4 linked regions of the Homo sapiens genome follow. The protein of the gene in region 1 interacts with the protein of each later gene in a pairwise test. Each region holds a gene or a part of one and is shown on either strand. Other genes may lie near its edges.

Evidence for each region.
Region 2: the proteins of BACE2 (region 1) and SCAPER interact in binary tests that used the Homo sapiens proteins (3 or more experiments, as listed by UniProt).
Region 3: the proteins of BACE2 (region 1) and ASAH1 interact in binary tests that used the Homo sapiens proteins (3 or more experiments, as listed by UniProt).
Region 4: the proteins of BACE2 (region 1) and MATK interact in binary tests that used the Homo sapiens proteins (3 or more experiments, as listed by UniProt).

Annotation. Positions count from the first base shown.
Region 1 is NC_000021.9:41,241,134-41,248,163, reverse strand, and holds part of BACE2 (beta-secretase 2 isoform A preproprotein), read right to left. Parts: intron 6,346-7,030; coding exon 6,217-6,345; intron 4,789-6,216; coding exon 4,654-4,788; intron 2,203-4,653; coding exon 2,101-2,202; intron 1-2,100. UniProt on the Homo sapiens protein: Responsible for the proteolytic processing of the amyloid precursor protein (APP).
Region 2 is NC_000015.10:76,349,334-76,356,363, forward strand, and holds part of SCAPER (S phase cyclin A-associated protein in the endoplasmic reticulum), read right to left. Parts: intron 4,808-7,030; coding exon 4,616-4,807; intron 1,956-4,615; coding exon 1,904-1,955; intron 1-1,903. UniProt on the Homo sapiens protein: CCNA2/CDK2 regulatory protein that transiently maintains CCNA2 in the cytoplasm.
Region 3 is NC_000008.11:18,081,099-18,088,061, reverse strand, and holds the start of ASAH1 (acid ceramidase isoform a preproprotein), read left to right. Parts: upstream 1-3,954; 5' UTR 3,955-4,003; coding exon 4,004-4,081; exon of another isoform or gene 4,082-4,145; intron 4,146-4,865; exon of another isoform or gene 4,866-4,940; intron 4,941-6,963. UniProt on the Homo sapiens protein: Lysosomal ceramidase that hydrolyzes sphingolipid ceramides into sphingosine and free fatty acids at acidic pH.
Region 4 is NC_000019.10:3,777,462-3,783,400, forward strand, and holds the end of MATK (megakaryocyte-associated tyrosine-protein kinase), read right to left. Parts: intron 5,759-5,939; coding exon 5,665-5,758; intron 4,212-5,664; coding exon 4,146-4,211; intron 2,337-4,145; coding exon 2,237-2,336; intron 2,157-2,236; coding exon 2,072-2,156; intron 1,991-2,071; coding exon 1,917-1,990; intron 1,727-1,916; coding exon 1,531-1,726; intron 1,135-1,530; coding exon 1,048-1,134; intron 962-1,047; coding exon 722-961; 3' UTR 512-721; downstream 1-511.

The sequences.
Region 1 (7,030 bases):
GGCACTGCGGCAGGGTCGGAACGAGCCCAGGTCTCGGTGCCTCTGCATGGGCTGCACCTTGTACAACACTCCCCGCTCCAGGTTCATTTCTAAATACAGAACTCCAAACCCTTAATTTCTAGAATCCCATCTGAACAATCCATGCCAGGGGACAGAGCTCCACGTTTTTATTGTCTTTCACTCTCTGAAGCCAGCCCTCCCCTTAACCAGAAGGAAACCCACGCCAAGAGGTTTGGCTTACTGGAACTGGTAGATAAGAAAAACAAACACAGCTTTGGTCCAGAGACGGTAAGCCAGACACACAACGCGCCCTTGTGATGCTTTCCCTGCCCAAGACAAACAACCTTCCCATGTTTCTCCCTCCTGACGCAGGCACCGAATGAAATCAGAGGATAATTTTAGACAACGCAAACAAATGTTGTGATCTCATTCCCTCTACCTCGTGGTTTTCGGCTCAGCGCATGCCACGATGAGCTCGGGAGTGCGAGCGCCCCACGGCCCCGCCGCCCCGCCTCTCACGGCACAGGGGTCTGGCCGGTCCACGACGTGCTGGATTTTCACACTGCGCTTCAAACACGTCCTCGGGATGGTGGACAGACTTTTCCATTCAGGATATGAAGTTGGAAGATACTCCCGTTAATTCTGCTGAGGGCATTTTTACTATTTAAGAAATGAGGGTATCGCTCCTTATTTTAAGTAGGGTCTGATTTTGAGCAAGCGTTCTAAATTTAAGGCACTAAAAATGTTGCCTGCCACTTTCTCTGATTCAGCAGATAGTGGGAAGGATGGAGACTCTGCCGTGGCTTCAGCTGCAGCTGCGCCAGTGGCTGGCCGCCTTGAGACCTGCTGCTTCGAAAAGAGCCCGCGTCCTTTCCTGCCTATTCCCCCTCTGTGTCCGTTTCATCCACGTGCCGCTCTTCCCGCAGCAGTTACAGGTGTTTGAAGTTCAGGACAACCCAAAGCCCTCTCCCGCTTGTCACGTTTCTGCTATGAGCTGTTAACAAGGCACCCACCATACGTGCTCCTATCGGCCACTCTTTGAATTCAGCCATCACAGCAGAGTAGCGGGACAATCAGCCCCACGCCAGGGCCGCAGTACAGGCTTTGTGCAGGAAACACTTTCTGACGATCTCACAAGGAAGGCCCAGATGCTATGAGAACACTCAGGCAGCCAAAAGTCATGTTCCTCTCGCATCTGAACAAATAGCAGCAACGCCGTGGTTGCATGTTTCATGGAAGCTCCAAGCATCTACTAAACACCAAGCATTTGACCCAAAACTCACAACCACCCCTCAGTTGAGAAGACGGAGGCTCTCAGAGGGCACAAAACCCCTCGCCAGGCATCCAGCTAAAAGTGGCAAAAACTACACTAAATTTAATTCTATTTCATCCCCAAAGCTGTCCTGTATCCAATGTTTATTGCCCTGAACTGACTGGAAAGTTGGGGTCACACCAGAAATACCATCAGCCAGGTCCCGAAAAGGCATATTGTCCACAATCATAATTTTAATTGTATTTCAGAGCATGGCCATAAAATAATTATTAGATTGGCTGATTGTTCTTTGTCTTCTGTGAAAAAATGGTATTCTTTTATACAAACAGAAGTTAAGATACCAGTGCAGGGATGAAAGCCAAAAAGGAGTAAAATTTTTGGTTTGTTTTGTTTCAAAGGCTATAAATTTATTCTCGATTTATTGTTTACTCTAACATAGCTATATTAGCAAGTATTGTTTTTTGCAGATTAAAAAAATACTATACCAACTGAACTATTATTTGAAATACTAGAGGGCATTGCACATTCAGATCCAAGTCCTCTGAGGTTCATGAAGGTACTATTTGCTAACATCAAAGAAAGGGACTGTGAAATTAACAAGTAATAGTTGAAACAAAACCCTTCAAAATATAAAGATTTTAAATACATATAAAATATATTTACATATTACACCTATACTATTACATATAAAATATACAAATACACAATATGAAAATTGGAAATACATGGCGCAATAGTTCAGAGATGCTCAGAACACGCAGTGCTGCTCCTCAGCAGGTGACTGTAACTCAGCAACTCGGGGACCCGTGAGTGTCCCGAGGACTCACCAGAGATGCGCGGGCCACAGCTTCCACCACCGCATCAAACACCTTCTGGGGCAGGCGCAGCAGCGTGGTGCCACTGTCCACGATGGCCTTGTCTGCGTTATACTTGAACCGGGAGAGAAAGGGAAAGGTGCGTGAGTGACAGTGGCGCTCCCCGCCCCACGTGGCTCTAGCCGCCATCACCATCTGTCTGTTACACACAAATCCAGGCAGCCACACCAGTCATCATGGACTGTGTAGTTCATTCATGTTCTCAGAACTGGGGAACCAGGGGTCTTCCAACCCAACACGCTCACTTCAGAGACAAGGAAATGGACCCAGGAAAGGGAGGGGACACGGCCCAAATTAGCAAATCAATAGCCCTCCCAAGGCACAGCTCTTTCCTTACTCAGAGGTGCCCAAGTTCCTTCATTGAGGACCTGCACTCCTGCCCCAGGGCAGAGGGAAGACCTATTTGTCTTTTGAGGCTGAAATATATTAAAAGCCATTTGTACAAACTGTACACAAATCAATTCTCTATGACCTCACTAACGAAGAGAAGGATGGACAATTTTTCAACAGACATCCCATATTTGCACTGGGAACAGAACCAGGGCCACAGTGCATCATAGACTGAGACACACACAGGCGCTGCCAGCCCTGTCCTCACCTGCAATGTTCTTCATGTGGCAGAGGGAGGAGAATGGACACCAGTGGCCAACACCAGATGAGCCACCCCAACCACTACGGGCACAGCTGCATAGGCAAGTCTACCCAGGGATGGAATGAGTCCTGGGTGACCTGATCCTCCTGCCTTAAGGCAAATCCATGAGTCACATGACCAATACACCAATCGGGTCAAAAGGAAATAAGGGAAGAGGGGTTCAGAATTTTAAGAAAATGAAATATACCAATGTATTAGTATTCTTCACAAATATTAAATTATTTTCAGTGTAAAAACAAACTTAATTTAAAATCTAACTTAGCGTGTTCATAAAATTTTCAGTTTTTTAATATGTAAGAAAAGTAAATATGTAAAATATGCAAACTGAAATGTTGCGCTAAGATGTCCTGGGATTTGTTGTTTGTTCTTTTGTGGGGTGGGTGCATATGGGGTGGGCAGGAAAGAACCTAGAATCTAAGAATCACACCTCCAAATACAGGCTTTTCCTCTCTAATACACACACACACACATACACACACACTCACACACACACACACACAGAGGTTTTGTATTTTGTTTTACATTCGGACATTCGATTCTACCACTGGGTTCTTAATTGACAAATAAGTGCCTCTTGACAATAAACACAGATTTGCAATAGAAGCGACCATCATTTTTATAATCTTTAGTTTCTCAGAGGTGTCAGGCCTCTGAGCCCAAGCTATGCCATTGCCATCTTATCCCCTGTGACTGTGACCTGCACCTATACGTCCAGATGGCCTGAAGCAAGTGAAGAATCACAAAAGAAGTGAAAATGGCCGGTTCCTGCCTTAACTGATGACATTCCACCACAAAAGAAGTGAAAATGGCCAGTCCCTGCCTTAACTGATGACATTACCTTGTGAAATTCCTTCTGGCTCATCCTGGCTCAAAGGCTCTCCCACTGAGCACCTTGTGACCCCCACCCTGGCCAGCCAGAGAACAACCCCCTTTGATTGTAATTTTCCACTACCTACCCAAATCTTATAAAGTGGACCCACCCCTGTCTCCCTTCACTGACTCTCTTTTCAGACTCAGCCCACCTGCACCCAGGTGAAATAAAAACCTTGTTGCTCAAACAAAGCCTGTTTTGTGGTCTCCTTACATGGACGCGCGTGACAAGAGGTACCTGCATATATGAGAATTGATGTTGGGATGTGATGGGTAATACGAACAGAAGTGCTAACAGGTTAGAATATAATGACATCCCCATGGTTTTTATAAAGCATTCTAAAAGTGCTATAGAAGACTGAGGCTCTCACAAGTCATCATAATCATAATGTCATAATGTGTCACGAACAAGCCAGAACTCAGTGAGAAGGCATGAACATGGTCCTGAGGTTTGGTGTCAGAGCTCTGTATGTGGCCACTTTAGCACTACCAAGCCACACACATCTATACAGCATGACCGTTTTTTAGGGAGAATTGGGTACTCTGGGGGCCAGGCTAGCTGTGAATGGAGGATAAAAGCTGATGATCTTTTCGGTTTCATTTTGCTTAATTTTCGTCCTTCTCTGTCCTACACTGATTAAAAATCTGTTTATTTCAACCTCTTAAACTGAGCTTAGGGACCATCAATCCAAGATGAATGAATGGTGAAAGGTGTAGCTCAGATAGTCCTCTTCACTCACCATTTAATGGTAATTTTGCCCTATGAAGATAAGTGGTTGGGAGGATGCAATATTTGGGGTGGGGAGGGAGGACAATTAATTGATTTCAACTTACTGTACAGCAAGGCCCTGCATCTTTTCATGTAATGAGCCTTTATCTTACGAGGTAATGTACCTTCTATTGGCATCTACGGGTTCCAGCTGGCATATTTAAGGGACCCAGACATACACAGAAAGACACAACAGAGACCATAGCATAAATACCTCTCTGCAGTCCAGATTAAGGCTTTGGCCTCCAATTTCCAATTTCAGAATTTCTATCTGGTAGTACCACTCTTCCTTAATAGGGGTATACCAGATGTCTCCTTTATACAAACTTGGTTCAATTCCACCCAAGACCTGGGACAGGAAATATTTACAGGTATAAGAGAAAAAATACACAGACATATCAACAGGTTACACAGAGAAGCATGCACTTGTAAAGAGAAACTTCACTGCAATCAGGGCTTCTACTTCGTGACAATGTCATGAAACAAATATCAATGCTTAAAAAATAAACAAGGAGCCAGGCGCGGTGGCTCACGCTTGTAATCCCAGCACTTTGGGAGGCTGAGGTGGGCGGATCATGAAGTCAGGAGTTCGAGAACGGCCTGGCTAGCATGGTGAAACCCCATCTCTACTAAAAATACAAAAATTAGCCGGGCAAGGTGGCGCGCACCTGTAGTCCCAGCTTCTCAGGAGGCTGAGGCAGGAGAATCGCTTGAACAGGGAGGCGGAGGCTGCAGTGAGCTGAGATCGCGTCACTGCACTCCAGCCTGGGCGACAGAGCGAGACTCCATCTAAAAAAAATAATAATAAATGAAATAAAATAAAATAAAATAAAACAAGGAATTTTATGGGTCCACGTCTGCAAAGGTCAGATGGTATTAGGCCCTCATCTAATCAAGATGCTTTGGAGGTTTCTCTTATCCAAAGAAAGTACATACAAGTTTAGCTTTACAATATTGAGATTTTTCCTTCAAAGAAATGCAATAAAACAGTTAACCACACTGACTGACAATTATTTAGTTCCTTGGAGGTCAGAGAACAGAAGATCAAGCACTTCCCTGATCAAAGCTTCATTGTGCAAAATCATAAAACATTTCCTCATAAATCCTATGCTGTCCTCTGCCTGGAAATGGTAGCAAATGAAAGTAGCTGAGGACCGGGGTGCAGATCCTGCCTCTCATAGTCAGACAGCAAAGGGACTGGCAGCACCCCCTTCTAGTGCATTCTTCCTGTCCCCTACTACTTTTGACGTCTGGGTGCCGGCCCCTGGAGGGAAGCTCAGGCTCCAGCACCTCCGTAGTGCTGACGGCCTTGATTCTGTTTCAGCAGCAAACACTTGTGCTGTGGTGCGTGTGTGCCTGTGTGTGTTGAGAGAGAGAGAGAGAGAAAGGATCTACAAGGGCCCCTGTTTCCCTGCCAAATTTATGAACTCTCCTTTGGCCCCCTACCCACAGTCAGGTCCACTCACCACGCCCCCCACCGCTCCTCACTTGTCCCTCCCCCACCCACAGAAAGCAGTGCCCTTCCAAGGGCGGTAAAGAAAAGTTTTAATGGAATTCGGAGAAGCGATGAGAATCATCCTTCCAGATGGCAGGATGACATAAAGGATTGCCTAATTTTAGCCATTTCTAAAAAGATCTACTACAAGGAGGATGAAAGTTTTACAGTACCTACGCACACCTACATGCCTAATATTTCTGCTCAGGTGTTTAATAAAACAGAAAAAAACAGCCCATCCATCTGTGATTTTTCGCCCCTTTAAGACTAAAAGATACCCACAAGACTACCTCCGTTGGTCCCAGATCCAGCAACGGGCAAGCCGGCTCCACACATCTGCATGGAGAAAACGTTGGGGATGTTTGCTTGTGTCACCAGGGAGTCGAAGAAGGTCTCCAGAGAACTTGATGGCTGCGGGAGGGCGACAGAGAGGGGCACCCGCTTAGGACTCACAGTGTAGACATGGGTCACCCAGTGTAGACGCCACGCGCCACAGACATTCCTGGTGTTTATACTCAATTTTTTCATGGTTCAACAGTACACCAGCTTGTGATTGGGTCTAGGAATTCAGAAAGCCCCAGCAGAGCTTCCCACTGGTTGGCATTCTTCCTTTGGGCACGGCTCTGTTGTACAAATAAGATCATATTTCTGGAAGCCATTCGACGCAGTCACATCTATCATCATGACTGCCTTGTGAGGGGGTGTGAGAAGCCGTGGAAGTAGGTTACCGTGGCAGGTGGTGGATCCTAATCTTAGGCATTTGAGAGTAAGGAGAGAAGAGTTTCTCTAGGAGCTGCCATGGCCGCAGACATCTTTGTTTGCCTGTCAGCCGCAGCTGTCCACCATGCAAATGAGAGGTGGCTGACCTGGGAGGACAGTATCCCCCGGACCCCAGAGCCTGGGGTGAGGCTTAGCTCTGCCAGATGAACTCTGGCAGGAAAGAAGCAGGAAAGGCACAAATCTATACTCCAGAAGCATAAAAGGCTTCTTATTCCCCCAAGGCCAGATTTCAGAAGCCCTCGTGTGCTCTGTGTCTCCCTCACATCCAGCAAGACATACAGAGGATGCCCTCATTTCTCCAGAGAGACTCAAAGGG
Region 2 (7,030 bases), on another chromosome or scaffold:
CATGAATGTAGTTTTAAGTATATCTTTAAAATTATTCAAATATAGCACAGCCTATCTAACAAAGCAGTAGGAATGAATGATAGGAGCTTTACTGGCCAGTGACATAGGTAAAGTAAACAATTGCAGCTAGACAGGCAGTAGGTATTTGAAAACCAAAATTCTTCCTGGGCAATAGGAATGTGGTATTACCAAGAGCTGCTTTTATATTTAAAGGTTTACCTGGACAATGAACTCAAAATATCTTGAGACATTTTATGAGGACTTAATCTAGGCAAAAGGGGAACAAATACCCAAGGTGCAAACTGGCAACTTAGGCATCATCATTAAAAAAAAAATCAAGCAACATATTATGAGCTGTCATTAACATAGTGATGACCCTTTCTGAGCAAAGGAGAGACCAATTCCCCCTTTGCTGTTCTGTGGGTTAAGCCTACTGTAACTGGGGGAAAGCATGAAAATCAGGGAAGATGGTCCCTTGGAAAAGAAAGAAGGTTGAGACTTCCACAGGCCTCAGTCCACCAAGCAGAGAGAGGCAGCTTCTGGGACTGTGTCTTCCAGACAATGTAACAAATTGTGACTCATCTTTATGATCAGGAGAAAGAGTAAGAAAAAAATGCTTATACTTCTTAGTGGCAAACAAAACAAAACAAAACTGCTGTACAATTGAAAATAAATACATTAGATTTTTCTAAGCATTTTAATTTATTCAAAATGAAATTGTTTTGTAAGAACAGTAACACATTTTGCTGATTTCTCCCCAAGTATCCTCCAGTAGTTAAAACAAAACAAAACAAAAAAAGGGCTGTGACTGGGTCAGGGCAGAACTGAACTTGCAGACTAATTCTTGCTCAGACAAATGGTACCGACAAGGATGTGGACTTGAATTTCTGAAAAGTTGCATAGCTTTCTGTTTAACTTTTCTGGGTGCCTGAGTCAATAAAACGTCTTTTTTTTTTCTTTTCATGATATTGTAATAGCTTTAGTTATATTTTCTTCTGTGCACTTTTCAACACCTGTCCACTGTAGAGGACTTTGTGTGTGTGTGTGTGTGTGTGTGTGTGTGAAAGAGTCCAAGGTAACACCCCCACCCCCACCAAGTAAGGGTTTCTTGGTGGGTGCCCTAAAGGGTCCTGCTGGGAGTGTACCTCTAAATGGCCACTTTAAAGACTATCAAACTAATGGAAGAATTGAAGAAGATCTGGATTAGGTTCTCATTCATCAGAGATGCTGTCATAACACCCAAAGAGCAACTTGTACTTCTCAATTACAGTCTGGGTAGCAGAATATTTAAAAAAGTAAAAATGTGGTAAAAATTCTACATCTCTAACTCTGATCACAGCAAACACCCCAGCAGGAATGCTATAGGAAAAAAAAACAACTTGTAAATCTTTTGCCCTGGACTTTGCCAATTAGATGACTTTTTCTCCATGTAAAACAATTATTTTCAAAACAAAAGTTCAACTACTTGAACTTGGGGGGAAACTGTGGGCTACTATTACTGATAACTTTATTCTGAACATGGATAAGGAACCAAACCTATGTGATTTCAGCATTTATGTGAGAAATGTGGGCCAGTATTAATGATCTGGCTCCTGTATTACAAAGCGGCTCTTTAGTAATTATTTACCATTTAATATATCTTGCATGAGATGATTATAAATTATACAAAGATATTTGTGCTTTTCTTTTACTCCCACAGATTTCTATACATATTTGGATGCATTCATGCTTCATGACAAAATCGATTTCTTTACTTACTGAAATATACTTGGTATCTGAATCTCAAATATTTTTAGGTTATGTATAAAATTTTACATATAATGTAGCAGTTCCAGAGGAAAGGATAAGAAAGATGTCCATTTGGCTAACAAACACATGAAATTTAATTTCAATAGAGACATACCTTTGGGTTGGTAAGGCTGGTTTTCCGCTTGACCTGGAGTCTGTGCCAAATCCTGTATGAGGAGAGAAAAGTGTTTTTCTATCAATGCTATGAACAGAGAATTTCACTAAGGGTGGCTTTAAATATACTTCTGATTCATGCAACCACTTTTGTATGAATATTTTGGGGCCCAAATATAAACGCTGAAGAAACTGATGTTACGTAGTGCAGGTTCTCATAAATAGTAATGACTTACATCTTGCTAAATTATCACCAGGGGACAACTTGCTGCCTACTTTGGAAATTACAACTTTTTATCTAATAAAACTAAAATTTAAGCCAAATTTACTATCTTAAAATATCAACAGGTGTTGATCATTTTTTTAAAAAGTACAAATATGAAAGCTCTATGTATTCTGCAGCTAAATCTTAAAGTCTGGTAATTTTGCATGTAGATGGAAAATGAAAAATGTAATATAAAATATGTAAATCTTCAGAAACCTAAGACAACCAGCTGCTATTTTAATATCATTTTCTAGTAACTCAGTTATAATGTAACACATAAGAGACCTTGAGGAACCACATTATAAACTAAAATCCTATCTATATTCATTCTCTTGAGCACAATTATTTATAGAAAAACACTTGATTTAACTCTACAAGTCTAATATGCTATCTGAAATAAACAATATAAGAAATTTTTTTTAGCATTTACAAAATTTATGTTACAGATTTTTTTTGTAAGACAAAGGTAGACTTAGTACTTTGTGATCAATATCAGATAAACACAAGAAATATATATAATCTTTAGATCCTGATATCATTTGTATCATTATAAGTCATTGTCTATGCAGTTGAAAACATAAGGAACTAAGCTGATACAGATGTGAAATTGGTTTCGCTCAAACATCACTGTCTCTTTGTTGAAGCCTCTCTGCCCACATCATAAAAACCTGCACATCATCTCCCTGAAGTCCCTAGCTCCTTTTCCTGCCTTACTTTTCTCCACAGCACTTATTGCCATAGCACTTAGCATAGTATCTGACATACTATTTGTTTTACTAATTTTTTTTTTGTCTTTTGCTTGACTCTTCTCCACTTTAATGAAAGATCTGTGAAGGCAGGAATTTTTATCTGTTTTATTTGTTGCTGTATTTGCAGTGCCCAGCACACCTTACACACTCAAAAATTACCTGTTCAATAAAAGAATGAATAATCTGAATTTAGAAAGAGCACACTCTTAAAATTATCCATAATGTATTTGTATTTTCTTTTTTTTTTTTTTTGATGGAGTCTCGCTCTGTCACTCAGCTTGAAGTTCAGTGGCATGATCTTGGCTCACTGCAACCTCTGCCTCCCAGGTTCAAGCTACTCTCCTGCCTCAGCCTCCCGAGTAGCTGGGATTACAGGTGCCCACAGAGACGGCGTTTTACTATGTTGGCCAGGCTGGTCGCAAACTCCTGACCTCAAGTGATCTGCTCACCCCGGCCTCCCAAAGTGCTGGGATTACAGATGTGAGCCACCACACCTGGTCCATAATGTATTTTCTATTTAATTTAATCCTAAGGCTCTAAAAATATATGAAGAATCCTAAGTGTTGATATGATGTTATATACTGTAAAATTTTCTTAAGATATTAACTATAAGACAGTTTTTGAAATCCATATTTGTAGATCTAAATATCTAATTTAACTTTTTTTCCAGAAAATAAAACGTAGATTCAAACAGAACAATTAAGCCGAAAACAAAACTTTTCTAACATAATTGATCTAGTTGCGTTTATTAATTATCTAATACAGGATAGTTTGGAAAACATAAACTTTGAAATGTTGTCTAAGATGAAGAGGGCTCGGGGAACTCCTTAGCTATCCTCTAGTTCCCAGCCAGCTGGGTACTATCATATCCTTTTGACAGAGATAGATGTATATTCACCAGAATATGGAAGAATACTAATACAGAACTCTGCTTTCTGTTTCATTATTCTGAAGACCAGAAAGTACTGTCTACTCATCACATGTGTGTCATGGAGCAAAAACACATCTTATGGTGGAACATGTGAAAGAAATGGGAGATTTTCAGCAAATAATGCTCTATAATGACAAAAAGAAATTCACAGGATGAGTTAGTTAGTAGCAAATGTTAAAGCATAGTCAACTTGGTTTTTCAGCTGACTAAGTTAATTTAGATGTGGAAATAGTACTTTGCTATGGCACTAATTCTGATTCTAGCCCTACAGAATTTAAAATATAAGGCTGTACTTAAAAGTTGTTTTACATTAAAAAAATCAATATAACAGGTTTTTATTTTATACATATAAGAAAATCATATTTATTTAAAAATGTACAAATAAACTAATTTTAATTCATCTTTCTTCAGTAATTATCTATTTCCTATAGTTAGAATAAAAGCAAGATAAATACAATAGTTAAAGCCTTAAAGAAGTCTGGCAGTCTTTTAAAAACATTTCCTGAGTACGGGTTACCATTTCATTAACTAGAAAAGTATCCTTTCTTTGAAATCCTCCAAGTAGAAATTATACAACACCCAATCGCAGTTCCAGTAATATTTCAGAAACTATGCTGATATTTTAGAAATCAATTTTGGAGCACATAAATATGTGAAGATTTTAAAAGGTAGTATGGAAGGCAAAAATAAACAGCTGGCTTACTTTTACATTTCTGTCGCATTAGTTTACACACAAAGCTAGACAATTACGTATAATGTAGAAGGTACCTGAATGAAAGTGGCCAGTAAAACACAGCTCATCTCTTGCTCCAGAATGATCTTGTTCTGATGGTTGTTGTAACAAGCAGCGATAAGTGAAGGGAACAGTACTTTGATCAGCCGTGGGTCACTGAAATACTGGAAGGGCAACTGGCAGAGCTTCTGCAGCACTGTGGGGTGGCGGCCGGACTGCACGATCACCTGAAATGGAAGAGCAGCCCAGGTCAGCTGCCGAAACGCCCCAGCCTGTCCCTCACCCACCTGCACAGTGTCGGCTAGTACCATGGAAAACATGCTGAAGGAGTGTAAAGAAAAAGACTCCTGACTCCGTACCAGAGCTTAATTTAAGTGATACTTGAAAAGAGCAGAAAAAAAAAATCTCATTTCCCAACTTAAGGAAAAGATCCTGAAAGTTTTGCACTCATTTAAAAGTTATTATAATCCACGATTAAAGGTGTAGCTGCCACGGAGTAAGGACGCCTATGAAATGGATTCAGAATGCACATTGCTTTAACAAAGTGCTCCCCACACCCCCTTAAAGCAGAGTAGTCATATTCCTTAAAACCTGCAAAGAGTTCACTCACAAGAAAGTAAGGCCCTGCCCACTGCAGTCTTCCCTTAGCTTAGCTCACTGAATACACTCAATGCAGACAGATCTATTCTGTATGCAGGCAGGTCCAAGAAAGAAAAGGTAATTCTAAGGAAAATGGGAACAGTTTCAAAAAAAGTTATAGGCTCCAAAAGACCTTTCCTCCAATCTATACTTCTTATCTTTGTTTCCATCAGTGCCACTGAGTCTAAAAGGAGAACTGTTTAGATAAATGAGACTGTTGTCTTGAAGCAGTCTTAAGTTTACAACTGTGTACATTTAAAGAAATAGGGCAATGCAACGAATGGGCTTGCAGGGAAGCCCTCTTAATTTACTCCCTAGGCCTCCATGATAAACTAAGAAATGTCAAAATTAGATCTGTTTCAAGTAACCTTGATTAGACAGTTCTAATATGAAAGAGCTGGGTGACCCAAAGCCCACTTCGTGGTATAGGAGGAAGCTCCTAGATGGTTGGGAACACTGTAAACCTAAGGTCAGAACTGTAAATTGTACTTGGAAAAACACAATTTTACAGGTACACACCCAGACAGGACTACATTCAAATTAAAACCAGAAGGAAAGAATGAAACAGCAGAGGCAGGAGTAACATAAATTACAGGGATTTACAAGTTTTCAAAGTACTTTTAACAATACTTTAAGAACACACTCTCAGATGATAATGCAGTTTAGTTTAAGAACAAAATCAACAAAGTAATAGTTCACATATTTTCGTTCAATAGCTAAAATGACATCAAAAGCCTTTAGAGACTGTTGATAGGGACTTGTTAATACCTTCAAATCCAGAAGGAATTTTAAAGACTTGCACTGTGTGACAATTCAGCACATGGCTATGTGCTGCCATTTCTGACTCTGGCTGAGAAGAATATGCCCTATCATTTACTTTATTGATAAAGGCATTTACTTAAATCTTTATTTTAACTATTAGCTGCAAATTTTGTAACACAGCCAAATGTTCCCCACATTAGAATTTATGATGATATGATTATTAGAAGTCTTCTTTTTTTTTTTCCCCTCCTTGGACAAAAATTAAGAACAAGTTTTTTCTTTAGATCTTCATTGTTAAAACGCTATTATTGGAAGATTTGCTAATTGAAAAATATTACACTGGCCAGCCTGGCTGGTGCAGGTACAATGTTAAAGACAACTCCTGGTGCCTGGCATATCAGCACAGAACATGAAGAGCTTAACTGGAACTTACTCCATTTGGGCTCCTGAACCTCACTGGAGTGAGGCAGAGCCCCTTAGGGACCTGTTGGTTCCCTCAAGGAACAGAGCTAGTTATCAGCTGCCGTTTACAGAGCGAGTTTACAGAGATGACCAGCAGTGTAGTGAGATGACTTGCCAGAAGCCATTACTTTTAAATCCCTGGATTGCAGAAGATGCAAATGGATGTAGGCAGTTTGGTTACCATTGGAGTTCTAAGGAGCTTTACCCATTGGACCACGTATGACAGGACTTAACCAGGCTACAGGTAAGGAGTCTACTACGACTGATGAGAACCCCCAACCCTACCACCCCATGGCTTGGTTATGAGCCAGAATGGGACATCTAGTCTATGCTGTCTTTCCAACCACATTTTAGACATTGTGGAGACAGGATCAGGAGGTTCAGGAAGGGGCCAGCCCACAGCACTAACACTCAGTGGGCTAATTCAGGTGGGCTTGTGGCATAGAGGGTGGCAGTCTGATGTCATGAGCACAGATGAACCGTCAGCTGAATTGGACTAAGCACTACCCTTTGGGGCAGGGGGCAGGGCTGGAAATGCAAACAGCCTGACCTTAATGATCAGGGTTTTGAGTAGGGTTGTCTTGAGA
Region 3 (6,963 bases), on another chromosome or scaffold:
AGGCAGGAATGATTGAGGCCAGGAGTTAGAGACCAGCCTGGGCAACACAGTGAGACCCATCTCTATTAAAAAAAAAAAAAAAGTATTAGAAAAGCTAGAATAGCCTTATTTTCACAATGTGGAAAGAAATTTATATGAAATTTATCTGAGTCATTAAAATTATCCTTAGGTGATAATTTTTTAGAAGTACATTACAGCTAGTGTTGCCAGATAAAATGCTGGATCTCACGCAGTACCTTTGCAAAACATGATCTAAAATTTAAATTTGTCCTACATTTGTACTTGCTAAATCTGGCAGCCTTAATTATTACACAACTATAACGCAACACAAACAATAATCTCTCCCCTAGTTTAGAGTCCTTTGCACGAAATTTAGCAAATCCTTAATTTTGAGTACAGTACAAGCCTGGTAATCCAGTGTGTTTGGGATAGGCTGGTGGAACTCAGAACTGATACATATATACATACATGTCTATCACATTCACTGTCTATTAGGTGTAAATCATCTTTTTATGTAAAAGACACTACTGGTTTGAGGATAGAGTTGTCTAGGAATGTTTTGTCCTGCTGTGACAGCATCACTATGCATCCCAGTGTAACATTCCTACAAAGGGAAGATCTCTTAACCAGGCATACTTACATTTGCTAGTTAGAAAACCATTCTGAGCAGTTTTAACTCCATTCAGTTGAATGGTGTACTACATTGTATGAGCTATTTGTGGACCAGATATAAATGACTATCACCCAGAACCACTTTCATTCAACATATGTAAAATGTGATGAGTGTTAACATTTTAAATAAGCGATCTGCTTAATGAACACTGATTGGTATGAAGGGGAAGTGTCATTCTTTACCTCACTCCTGAAACACTTTTCTATCCAAAGGTTGGTTTGAGTCAGTATTGGCGTCATACAACCACTTACTATAAAATAAGTTTACTGGTGGTAATGTGATGGAATTTATTCCGGATATCTGATGTTATAAACTTTAGGGTCCCTGAAATATGCAGGATCCTTGTATGTAACTGGCATAAACCCTGTAAAGAGATAATTAAAGTTCTTGACAAAGCATAATGAGCAAAATTTCAGCTAGCTCAATACAGTTGTTGAGGTGCTCTTTCTTACCCATTGTTTGAGCTCTCTTAATTGCTTTTGTGATTTGTTTCTTCCCACAAAGACCTGTAAAATAAAAAGCTTCCTTATTCATAAAAAAGTCAATATTTAAAGTTAAAAAAATGTTTATTTCTCAAACTGAAACATTATTTCTCTATCTCTTGACCTTTTAGTACACGTTTTTGTATATTCGGTTTTACTAAATCAAGTCAAACCTGTTCCAGGTAATGTGATGTTATACATGATAGGTTTCATTTAGGGTGGGGTGGCTAAGTTGCAACCCTTTTAAATCAAGGCTCCACCTCAGGAACCTAGGAATGTTAGGTAGGAGATGAGGAAGTCCACAGCTTGCCAAGAACTTCAGCTATTCCATAAACAATCTGATTACATATCCCGACTCTTGCACACGAAACAGGTTATCCAAGTCTTAAACTTGATGCTTTTGTGCAGTATGAACCACCCTTTCCGTGGACATAATCATGCATTTGCACATTTAAATACCATTTTCTATGAACAGATCAGTATGCCAAAAACCACTGCAAAGTCTCCTACACACACCTTGCCTTGACTTTCTGTACATTTCTAGTATTAAAGAATGGTGTAGGCAAAATAAAGATATATGTGTAAGAAAAAAAAGACATGCATGAAATGGTTTAATTTTAGGGAACTAGATTTATATTTTATCTGAAAAGAGTATTAATAATATATAATAGACCTTTGAAAGTTAGACGCATAGTTCTGCGAAAGTGGTGCCTAAGAATAGTATGTCAATTGACAAATTTTTTCCATAAAGAATCTGATTTTGCTAGACTACCTAATCACCAATTAACATCCTCCAGTAGGGAAAAAAATATGCTTGGTGACATGTTTAAATCGCTCTCAAGAGTACTGAAGATGAATGATCTTCCAATCAAGTAGCTATTTGATTTAGTAATAACAACTAAAAGATGGGAATCCTCTTCTTCGCACACTCATTTTAAGCTCCAAGGTAATTCCATAGATTCAACATTTAACACGTATATTCAATATTACACATTTTTTTTCCGGAGTGAAATGGCTCTGAATGCCTTACAGAATTTGCCCTGCTCTCCTTAACTAAATACTTTGTCTATTAATACTTCTTTCTTCTTTTCCCCTTGTTCTTTCTGTGCCAGACCCACACACGTCTGCTGTAATTGAACATGCCAGGCACATTCTCCATTTAAAGCCTTTTAACAGCTGCTGTCTCTGCCTAGAATACTCTTACTTGGGCACACACAAAACTAGCTTCCTGGTCTCCCTCAACTGTCTGCTCAAACTTCACCTCCTTAATCATGTCTATCTGTCCCTCTTATTTAAAATTGTAACTCTACCACTTCTGATCTCCACACTTGATGCCCCTGGCCTCCCTTTTCCTCCACTGCATTTGTCACTAACATCCCGTATAATTTTCTTAGGTATTATGTTTATTGCCCATTTCTCACCGAGAACATACGCCTCAGGGTGGAAGAAGTTTGTCTTTTTGTTGTTGTTCACTGCTTATCCCCAGTGTCAGGAGACATGCTTGGCACATTGTAGGTCCGCAGTAAATATTTTTTGAATTAATAAAGAATATTTCTACCATCTGCTAGCTTACTGTTCATGCAGGAGCTCAAATGTGCTTTAAGCATGTGATATGTTTCAAAAGTCAAACTTCATCCTTAGGGAGAACACTGTCATCTTCTCCTCCTTTAAAAAAAAAAAATAGGAAAAAAAGCAAAACAAAACATCACCTTCTCATTTCCCCACCTCCAACAAAAAGAGTGTTGAGTTTTCTAAAGAAATAATACAAATGGATAAAACTGCAATTTGTTGTCCTTTCTCTCACATGCAAAAAGAAAAGAAAAAATACTGCCGAGATTTCGGCAGCGTGCTGAGCTTCATCAAAGCATTAAAACAATGCTGCTTGAGACGTCAGAGGCTCATCCAGGAAGTGCAACCCAGAGGGCAGGATTTCCTGCTGGACTTTGAAATCCAACCCGGTCACCTACCCGCGCGACTGTGTCCACGGATGGCACGAAAGCCAAGCGAGTCCCCCTGCCGAGCTACTCGCGTCCGCCTCCTCCCAAGCTGAGCTCTGCTCCGCCCACCTGAGTCCTTCGCCAGTTAGGAGGAAACACAGCCGCTTAATGAACTGCTGCATCGGGCTGGGAGAGAAAGCTCGCGGGTCCCACCGGGCCTCCTACCCAAGTCTCAGCGCGCTTTTCACCGAGGCCTCAATTCTGGGATTTGGCAGCTTTGCTGTGAAAGCCCAAGTGGGTAACCAACAGCTTGGAGGACCCGAGTGGATTCGATTCTCTCTCACTCCTCGGCCACTCAACTGCTCCTTGTCCCTGACTCCGCGGTGGGGATGAATAACTCAACTCATTTCGGGCCGCTTTTCTCAGAGGGCAAAGATGGGTCAGGGTGGGATGTTACATTAGTGTTGAGACTCTTTGGATCCGTTTCGTGGGTACCGAGGACGCCTGGGTACGCGGGACAGGCTGCACCCGCCTGCTAGAGGCGCCCCATCGAGGCGCCACGGGTGAAGCTCCCGGCCCCACCTACGGGGCGGGGCTCCGGCTCGGTCCGACTATTGCCCGCGGTGGGGGAGGGGGATGGATCACGCCACGCGCCAAAGGCGATCGCGACTCTCCTTCTGCAGGTAGCCTGGAAGGCTCTCTCTCTTTCTCTACGCCACCCTTTTCGTGGCACTGAAAAGCCCCGTCCTCTCCTCCCAGTCCCGCCTCCTCCGAGCGTTCCCCCTACTGCCTGGAATGGTGCGGTCCCAGGTCGCGGGTCACGCGGCGGAGGGGGCGTGGCCTGCCCCCGGCCCAGCCGGCTCTTCTTTGCCTCTGCTGGAGTCCGGGGAGTGGCGTTGGCTGCTAGAGCGATGCCGGGCCGGAGTTGCGTCGCCTTAGTCCTCCTGGCTGCCGCCGTCAGCTGTGCCGTCGCGCAGCACGCGCCGCCGGTGAGTGAGCTTGAGCCGAGGCGCAGAGAGGGGCGTGCAGGTGCGGGCGCGGATGGAGGCGCAGGTGTGGCGGCGCGAGCGGGTACAAGGAACACCTCGTGCTGGGCAGCTTCTTTACGGGGGTCTGTGGTTTCGTGCACAGGGGTGTGGGTGCAGAGCGGGCTGGCGAACCCCGTCCTCGGTAGATTCGGTGCTACCTGCAACTAGAACTCCTTTAAAGGAAATCCTAGTCTCTGCAGGATACCTGGGTGTGATTCGCACATTCTTAGATTTGAGTGAGTGTACTTGAATAACCAGTTCCAGGCCCTTGCATTTTGAAGTGTTTAAATAAAATGTTCCGGTGGACCTGTGTGCATTACTCAATCAAGGACAGACTGCCTGATGGTCAGGTGCTTTCTCCCGAAGAAGTTCAGGAGTTCAGCCCAGGATACTGCAGGGCCGTGGGAAACGCTGAGTGGTCCCAAGCTTGGGCGGTGCGAGCAGCCCAGAGCAGGCCCCAAAGGGCCCCCTGTGGCCTTTTGCACCCAAGTCATGGGATCGCCTGTCCCGTGGCTCTTTCCCACGAGCAAGTCACAGGGCTACGGACTTCCTAACTGCAAGAGACAGTGAGGGACGAGCGTGACTCTTTCATTTTACAGAAGAGGAAGTAGACCTAGAGTGAGAAAATATTTAGCCAGAGGTTACACTGTTGTTTACTGAACATGCGTAACGTCCGAGCCTCTTGACGCCCAGTACTCTTTCATAATTCATTTCTTTATAAAGCAATCAGACTGCGTTTGTCTTTGCCAACAGAATCGGATAAGTAGGAACCTGGCGCATCTGGCCTGAGGCTAGATGGTGATGGTCTTGAATAGTTTAGGTAGGTTATTGAAAGTGGAAGCAAGATGTGCATTGTCTTCTTTTATACCTGTAAGGAGAAATTCTTTAAAATCATGGTGGGATATGATTTAGCCATTAAAATTGATATAATGTTCAGCAGATAAAAGTAGAATCCAGAATAGTATATACAGTTTTTCCTGTAATAGGAAAATACACAGAACATGTATGTGGACACGATTAAAGGCCTTAAAATAAAATTGCTCCATTGTGGGTAGGGAATTAATTTGCTTGACGGTAGTTGGTTTTATGGGAATTGGGAGAGACTTTGATACTTTGATACTGTCAGGGCCCTTCATTGAAAGACCACCAGGAACACACCATAAGCTGAACAAATTGGGTTTAGTGTTCTTTGAGGCAAAGGAGACCACACACCATGAGCGACGGACGGTAGGTTATAGAAAAAAACCCATTACAGAATTTGAACTTCGGTTGCATGATTTGGGGTAAGACTGAGGAACCGGGCTTTGCTGTAGATAGAATGCTGTTAGAAGGTGGGGCAATTCTGACTGAGTAAAGAAGGAACAGCCATTCTGTTTAGCACGAGAAGGGGATGTTTGGTGTTTTGTGCGTTGCAGGTGCCCTTGTTTTTGTCTGTTCTTAGAGAAAATCTTCAAGTGGCATTGCTTTGTCTTGGTGTGTCATGTCTCAGAATAATCTTATCCGACGTAGGTATCTGTGGGATTGTTGATGTCCAGGAGGAAAACAGAGCTTACCTGGCTGTGAGTGTCAGATCGGCTTGTAATAATATTGAGAGATAGCTGTGGGACTCAGAGCAGTTTCAGGTGTTGGAGGCTGTTTTTTCTTCTTTCTCAATAGCTTTATTTATTCTAGCAAAAGTATTTTGATAGCTATTTTCAGAAGAAGAATTAACAACCTCTCAATGGATATAATAGTTCTTATCTAGAACAGCGATTATCAAAGTCTAGTCTGGCCACTGGTGTCACTTTGGGAAGCTGTTTTCACAGGTTTTCAATGAAACTGGAAAAATAAGAATGCAAAACTAAAATTATTAATTTAGAATGTTAATCTTTACTCTGATTGTATGGACTTCAAGTTTTCATTGTTGCAAACGTGTTCTTAAAAATAACGGCAGAGGTAGATGTTATGTGCATGGAATTTGTTTTGTTTTAACATCTCCATTTGGCAGAATAAAAATTTGGACCCTCCTGTGCCAAGGCCTCATTAATTTTTTTTTACTGGCCTGGAAAATCCTGGGATCCATGCACTGAAGGACCTTTAGAACCTTACAGAAGTTTAGTGACTTCATTCTCTGAGAAGAATAAGCAGTTTTTCAACTGGAGTCATTATATGATAAACTATAGCCTCATGGTAACAAAAGATATTTCAAAAGTACTTTCAATAAATATGAATAATGAGAAGCAGCTTTAAATTGGAAACAAGTCATTTGATTTAGAACATCTGTAAGGATTTTTTGTGTGTTTGTTTTTGAGGCTTTTCACAATATTCCTATGTGAAGGTCCTCCTGAGTTATTCTTCATTATTGAATTTTTTAGGAGTCTATTAAGAGATGATGGTGAAGACAGTGGCACAAGAAATGTCTGGAGAGATAGCGCCAGATGACATCATCCAGGGTTCTGTAGACTCTTATTAAGGATTCAGAAATTTATCCTAAAAAATGGGAGGATCTGGAACCAGCCAATGGGAGGCCATTAGATGGTTTTAGACAAGATAACATTTTCACTTTAAAAAGATGAGTCTGGATTGGAGGTCAGCAAGGGTAGATATGAGGAGACTAGTCCAGAAAAGAAAACAGGGTGCGTTGAAGGATGGTGGCGCCAGGGGTGAGGGAGAGAAGTAGATGTTCTAGAAAAAAATCAGGAGGGCGAATGAGCTGAAGGAATCGTTGGGTGAGGATGAGGGAGTGAGGTGTCAGCGTGACCTGCACATTGCTGAAGTGCTTCGCTGGGCGAATGGTGGCATCCGTTCCAGGAAACATGGGGAGGGGAAAGCTTGGGGGCTAAAGAATGAGGATCGTTTTCATT
Region 4 (5,939 bases), on another chromosome or scaffold:
TTGGCAGCCTCCCAAGATCCTTTAAGCCTGGGACCCCATGGGTTGGGAAAGGGTGCCCACCACTGAATACCACATGCCCTGGGGGACTGCAGTGGGGAACCCGTGGGTAATGGCAAGTGGGTCCCCTGCCCAGAATCCCCCAGGGAACGGTGTCCCCACAGTGGCCAGCAGGCAGGTGCCAGCTGGGCAGATCCTCCATGGGCCAAGATGGGGAGGCCCCCGTGTGCAGGCATGTGGCCACAGGAGGCAGGGGCTTGGGGCCGGTGGGTGCCCAAGACTCGGCCAAGGATCAGTGGGGTCCCAATTAATTGATCCCATCATGTGGGCTGCAGTGGGTTCCACAGAGTAGGAAGGTGACCACTGGGGCTGGGGCACACAGGGCATCTAGGGGGGGTGGACCTCTAAGGGAGGACCCAGGATGCCTGGCGCCTGGGGGTGTCCGAGAGCAGATCACCAAAGGTGGCCCCCGGGGAAGAGGGCACGGGGACACAGAGACACACAGGCGCCTAGAGTCCTTAGAATCCGTCTTTATCGGGCGATCATCCTTCGCAGGTCTGGGGTGTCCACGGGCCGCCCAGAGCCCCCTACGTGGGCCAGCCCCTGCTGTGGGCACCAGGAGGATGACTTGCCCGCCTGGACCCTCCTTGGGCCTGGTCAGTGCCCCCACGCCGCACTCTCCACTCTCTCGGTCCTCTGGGGCCAAGGGCCCCACCGGGTGGGGTCAGGGCTCCTGGCTTCGGGGCGAGGTGGAGCCGTCGGCGTCCTGCCCTGAGACGGAGGCTGGGGCACCTGCACTGCGTAGCTCCCGGGCCAGCTTCTCGGCCAGTTTGCGGAAGGGTGGCCGGCGGGCGGGCTCTGCCTCCCAGCAGCTGCTCATGAGGACGTGCACGGGGCCTGGACAGCCCTCGGGGGGTTCCATGCGGTACCCCTTCTCCACGGCCTCCGACACCTCTTTCAGTGACTGCGGACAGCAGGCGTGGGCAGGGGTCAGGGCCACAGCCTCTGGACCTGCCCGGAACCCAGTGCCTCCCTGGGACCCCCGCTCACCATTTTAGGGTACGGAGCCCGTCCATATGAGAAGACCTCCCAGAGCAGCACCCCAAAACTCCAGACATCCGACTTGCTGGTGAACTTCTGTGGGGCCCGAGACGGGGGTGAGGAGGGACCCCTCAGGTTTTCTGCTCCAGCCCCTGCTTCCTCCAGGAAGCCCTCCTGGGTTGACCCTCACTCTCTGGTCTTCTCCTAATTGAGTCCTCCCCCAACGCCGCCCGCAGTTGAGTCTAGCTCAGCCTTAGTGCATGAAGGAAGCCTGGTTATTCTTCCCTTCAGTCCTGAGCCCACGCCTTTTTCAGAGCTGGAGAAACTGAGGCCCAGAGGGGGGCTACGAGGAACAATTATGGGCCAAGAGCTTCCTGGGGAGGCATAGCCATTGCCCTTGGAGTTTCAGAGAGGCCAAGGGACATACCCAGGGTCATACAGCAGAGCTGGGGGGACCCCAAAGCCCCAGGGGTATGTGAAGGCAGGGCTCACCCCGTGTTTGAGAGCCTCGGGCGCCGTCCACTTGACGGGCAGCCGGCTTGAGTCTAGCCCCTTCCGCTCGGCTTTGGCCAGGCCAAAGTCGCTGACCTTGGCCACCAGGTCCTCTGAGACCAGGATGTTGCGGGCGGCCAGGTCGCGGTGCACAAGCTTCTTGCTCTCCAGGTACTCCATGCCCTCGGCCACGTGCCTGGGGGTAGTAGGGGGCAGTGGGGGCTCAGGTGCCAGGATGCCCACATTCAGGGCTCAGAAAGCTCGGGGTGCCTGGGGCCACAAGCTCACAAAGCCTCCCTGCCCCGTGCCTCAGTTTCCCCTTGATGGATCTTGGAATCTGCGCCCCGACGACCCCAGTGCCGCAGCACCCTGAGAGTCCCACTTACAGAGAAAACTGCAGGAGCTGAGCGGTGTTCACGAGGGCTCGACCCCGGGTCCGCAGAAAGTTCACCAGGTTGCCCTGTTGGGGGTGGGAGATGGCCGCGGGATGTTGGGGCTGCTCCGCTGCGTGGGCCCCCTCCCCGCCTGGGCCCCGCCCCACCTTGCTCACGTGCTCCATGACAATGTACAGCCCCTGGTGCAGGATCACGCCCAGGAGACGCACCAGGTTCTCGTGTTGCATCTTCCTGGGGGCGGTGGGGTGGGCGTGAGGGCAGGGCTGGGACCCCCCCCGTCCCACGGTCCCCAGCCCCACCCTGGGACTCACGTCATGACGGCCGTCTCGTCCAGGAAGGCCTGGGCTGTCACATCACACTTGATATTCTTCACGGCCACCTTTTGCCCCAGGTACTCACCCTGCAGGACAGCTGGGGGGTGGGGGTGGGGAACGGGGTGAGATCAGGACCCCCAACAAACAGGGACAGAGAGACAGACGGACAGGCCCGCTCACACCGGTGCCCATGTAACATTCACACAGCTGCGGGTCCCCAGACCTTGAAACACAGACCCCATGCTCCTCACCCCTGCCGCCCTTGCAAGCTCCAGACCCAAGATCAGAGAACCATCTGGCTCTGGCGCGGTGGCTCACGCCTGTAATCCCAGCACTTTGGGAGGCTGAGGCAGGCGGATCACCTGAGGTCAGGAGTTCAAGACCAGCCCGACTAACATGGAGAAACCCTGTCTCTAATGAAAATACAAAACTAGCCAGGTGTGGTGGCACATGCCTGTAATCCCAGCTACTCGGGAGGCTGAGGCAGGAGAATCACTTGAACCCGGGAGGCAGAGGTTGCAGTGAGCCAAGATTGTGCCATTGCACTCCAGCCTGGGTGACAGAGCGAAACTCCATCTCAAAAAAAACCCCACAAAAAACAAAAACAAAGAGAGAACCATCTAAGCCAGGGGTCTGTGAACCCCCACCCCCTCGGGGCCAAATCTACCTATCACCTCTTTTTGCAAGACCCTTCAGCTCAAAATGTTTTTTGCATTTTTATTTTTAATTAATTAATTATTTATTTGAGACGGAGTCTTGCTCTGTCGCCCAGGCTGGAGTGCAGTGGCGCCATCTCTGCTCACTGCAAGCTCTGCCTCCCAGGTCACGCCATTCTCCTGCCTCAGCCTCCCAAGTAGCTGGGACTACAGGCGCCCACCACCACGCCCGGCTAATTTTTTTTTTTTTTTTTTTTAGTAGAGATGGGGTTTCACCATGTTAGCCAGGATGGTCTCGATCTCATGACCTCGTGATCCGCCCGCCTCAGCCTCCCAAAGTGCTGGGATTACAGGCATGAGCCACTGTGCCCGGCCAACATTTTTATTTTTAAAATATTGATACAGGGTCTCACTCTCTCACCCAGGTAGAGTGCAGTGGCGTGATCACAGCTCACTGCAGGTTCAAATTCCTGGGTTCAAGGGATCCTCCCATCCCGGCCTCCTGAGTAGCTGGGACTACAGGCATGCTCCACTGTGCCTGGCTTTTTTTTTGTACAGATGGGGGTCTCGCTACGTTGTCCAGGCTGCACCTGAACTCCTGAGCTCAAGGGATCCTCCTGCCCCGACCTACCAAAGTGCTGGGATTCCAGGCATGAGCCACCGTGCCTGGCTGGTTTTTGCATGTTTAAATGGTTGTAAAAACAAATCAAAAGATGAGTGCTGTTTCAGGACATGTGAGCATTACACAAAATTCAAATTTCTGGGTCATAGTTTTCATGGCCACGCCCATATGTTTACATATTGTCTGTGGTCGCTTTCACTCCACAAGGGCAGGATTCAGTAGTGGTGACAGCAGCTACCTGGCCCACAAAGCAGGAAATATTTACAATCTGGCCTTTTACAGAGAGTCTGCCGACCCCTGATCTAAACCCCAGAGCCTTCCAGAATAATAATTTCAGGGAATGGTGTTTCAAACATTCCAAACAGTGGGACTGACCATACAAGACCCTGGCAGTGTGAAGAAGTCACTAACGTTGACTGAGCGCCTGCTTGAGTTCACTTACTCCTCATGACAGCTGCCATTACCCCCTGTTCCAGAGGGGGAAACTGAGGCTCAGAGGATTTGCACGTCTTCAGCTGCACAACTAGTAGGTGGTTAAGTATGGGTTTGAATTCAGCTCTGTGACTCCAAAGCCTCAATACGCACCTCCCATCTTCCTTCAGCACCCCCAACCCAGTCCGCCACTCACCTCCAAACTCTCCCTCTCCGATCTGTGCTCCCAATGTCAAATGCTGCAGGTTCAGTAACCAGCCCGCTGTGGAGTGAAGACCCAGTCAGAGGGGTAATGGGCCCCCTAAATCCTCCCATTGGGGGTTCTACTTGGTGAGAGACTAGGTGATGTCTCTCACAGTGCTGCAGCTGTGGATACACATTTGAGTGGCTGCTGGGCCTGGCAATGCCCCTAGGACATATCAGAGACACCCCACTCCTGGTACCAATTATTGTTGTTGCAAGCAACAGAACTATCTCAGGTTGACCTGAACAAAAAGGGGCTTACAGGAGGGATAGTGGTGTGAATAGTCAAAGCTGGGGGCCTGCCTGGCTGAGACCCTCAGACCCCACACTTGCCCTCCAGGAACTCCCAGTCAGGCCCAAGGGGTAGTGCCAGGAAACACTTCAGTTCTCAGAGATAAGAGCTGCCCTTTTCTCTTTGGCTCTCTTGTCCCTCCAAATACCCTCTGGGCTCTTCCCTACACAGTTCTTTACCTCTGACCACCCCAGAAACACACACAGAGCAAAAAAACACAACATGGAGACCCATAAAGGTTCCAGAATATTCCAGGGCTCTAGCCTCCCTGACCCTTCTCCCAAGCACTCCTGTGTTGTCCCCTCCACTGCCCTCTGGTCGGTTCTGCAGACGTTCTCTTCTCCCTCCAGAAAGTGCCCCCTCCAAATGCCACGGTCTTAAGAGATCATTGGCCAGGGTGATGCTAGTCTCCACCTGGATGCCATCCCTGATGGGTACAGACTTCCCCAGCAGAGAGATACTTTCAAGGAGACAGACATGGGGTCAGAGGAGGCATTTGCTTTTGACCTTAAATATTGAGGATTTCACTACTTAGGGGCTGGAAAAGCATTTCAGGTGAAGGGAACAGAATATACAATGGCTCAGAGGCATGAAGAAAACGATGATCACAGTTGACCTGGGAGGGGGTGGATGTGTGGAGGAAGGGCTTTGCAGATGAGGCTGGAAAGGTGGCTCAGGCCATGCAGGCAGGTTCTGGAAGGTGGTGGAGCTGCTGGGCCTCTCTCCCTGGAGGCATGGTTTCATGATAGAAAGATAACCTTGAGGCTGCACTCAAGGCCTGGGCTGGAAGGGGGACTCGCCCTCTGGGAAGGAGGCGGTCTGATGGGAGGGCCTGAGGCTGGGCTGTGGGGAGGGGAGGGGAGAAGATTCACCAGGTCTTGGGAACCTGGCCAAGGAGGGAATGCTGGAGGATGGGGTGGGTGGAGGTTCGGGGCCAGGTTTCTGGCTCAGATGGTGGATGATGGTGACAGATGAGTGGCGAAGCTGGGGACCTATTGAATAAAGGACTGATCTGTGTCTGTGGGCACCCCCGAGGCAGCCCAGGTCTTCTATCCCATAGCTGGGCATGGAGACAGGCTTGGGTGATCTGGCCTCAGAGGTGCGGGGCCCCAGGGCCCTTCCTCCCGGACTGGGCTAACGTGGGTAGGGAAGGGGGTCTGCCCTCCTGGGCGTCCCCTACCCCTGGCCAGCTCCTCCTCGGCCGACTTGGTCCCGTGTTTCCGCTTTGGTCTCACCAGCTTGGTGCAGATAGCGCCCTTGTCCTTGCTGTAATGCTGCAGGATGGTGGGACAGCCATGAGCCCAGCCCCAGGGAGGGGAACCCCAGCATCCTGTTCCGTTCCCGGGTGGCCTCTGGGTGGGGTGGGTGGGACCGGGGAGGAGGAGAAAGGCTGGTTTCCATAGGAACGGGAAAGGAGGCAAGCCAAAAGGAGGGGGAGTCCTCTGGATTGGTATC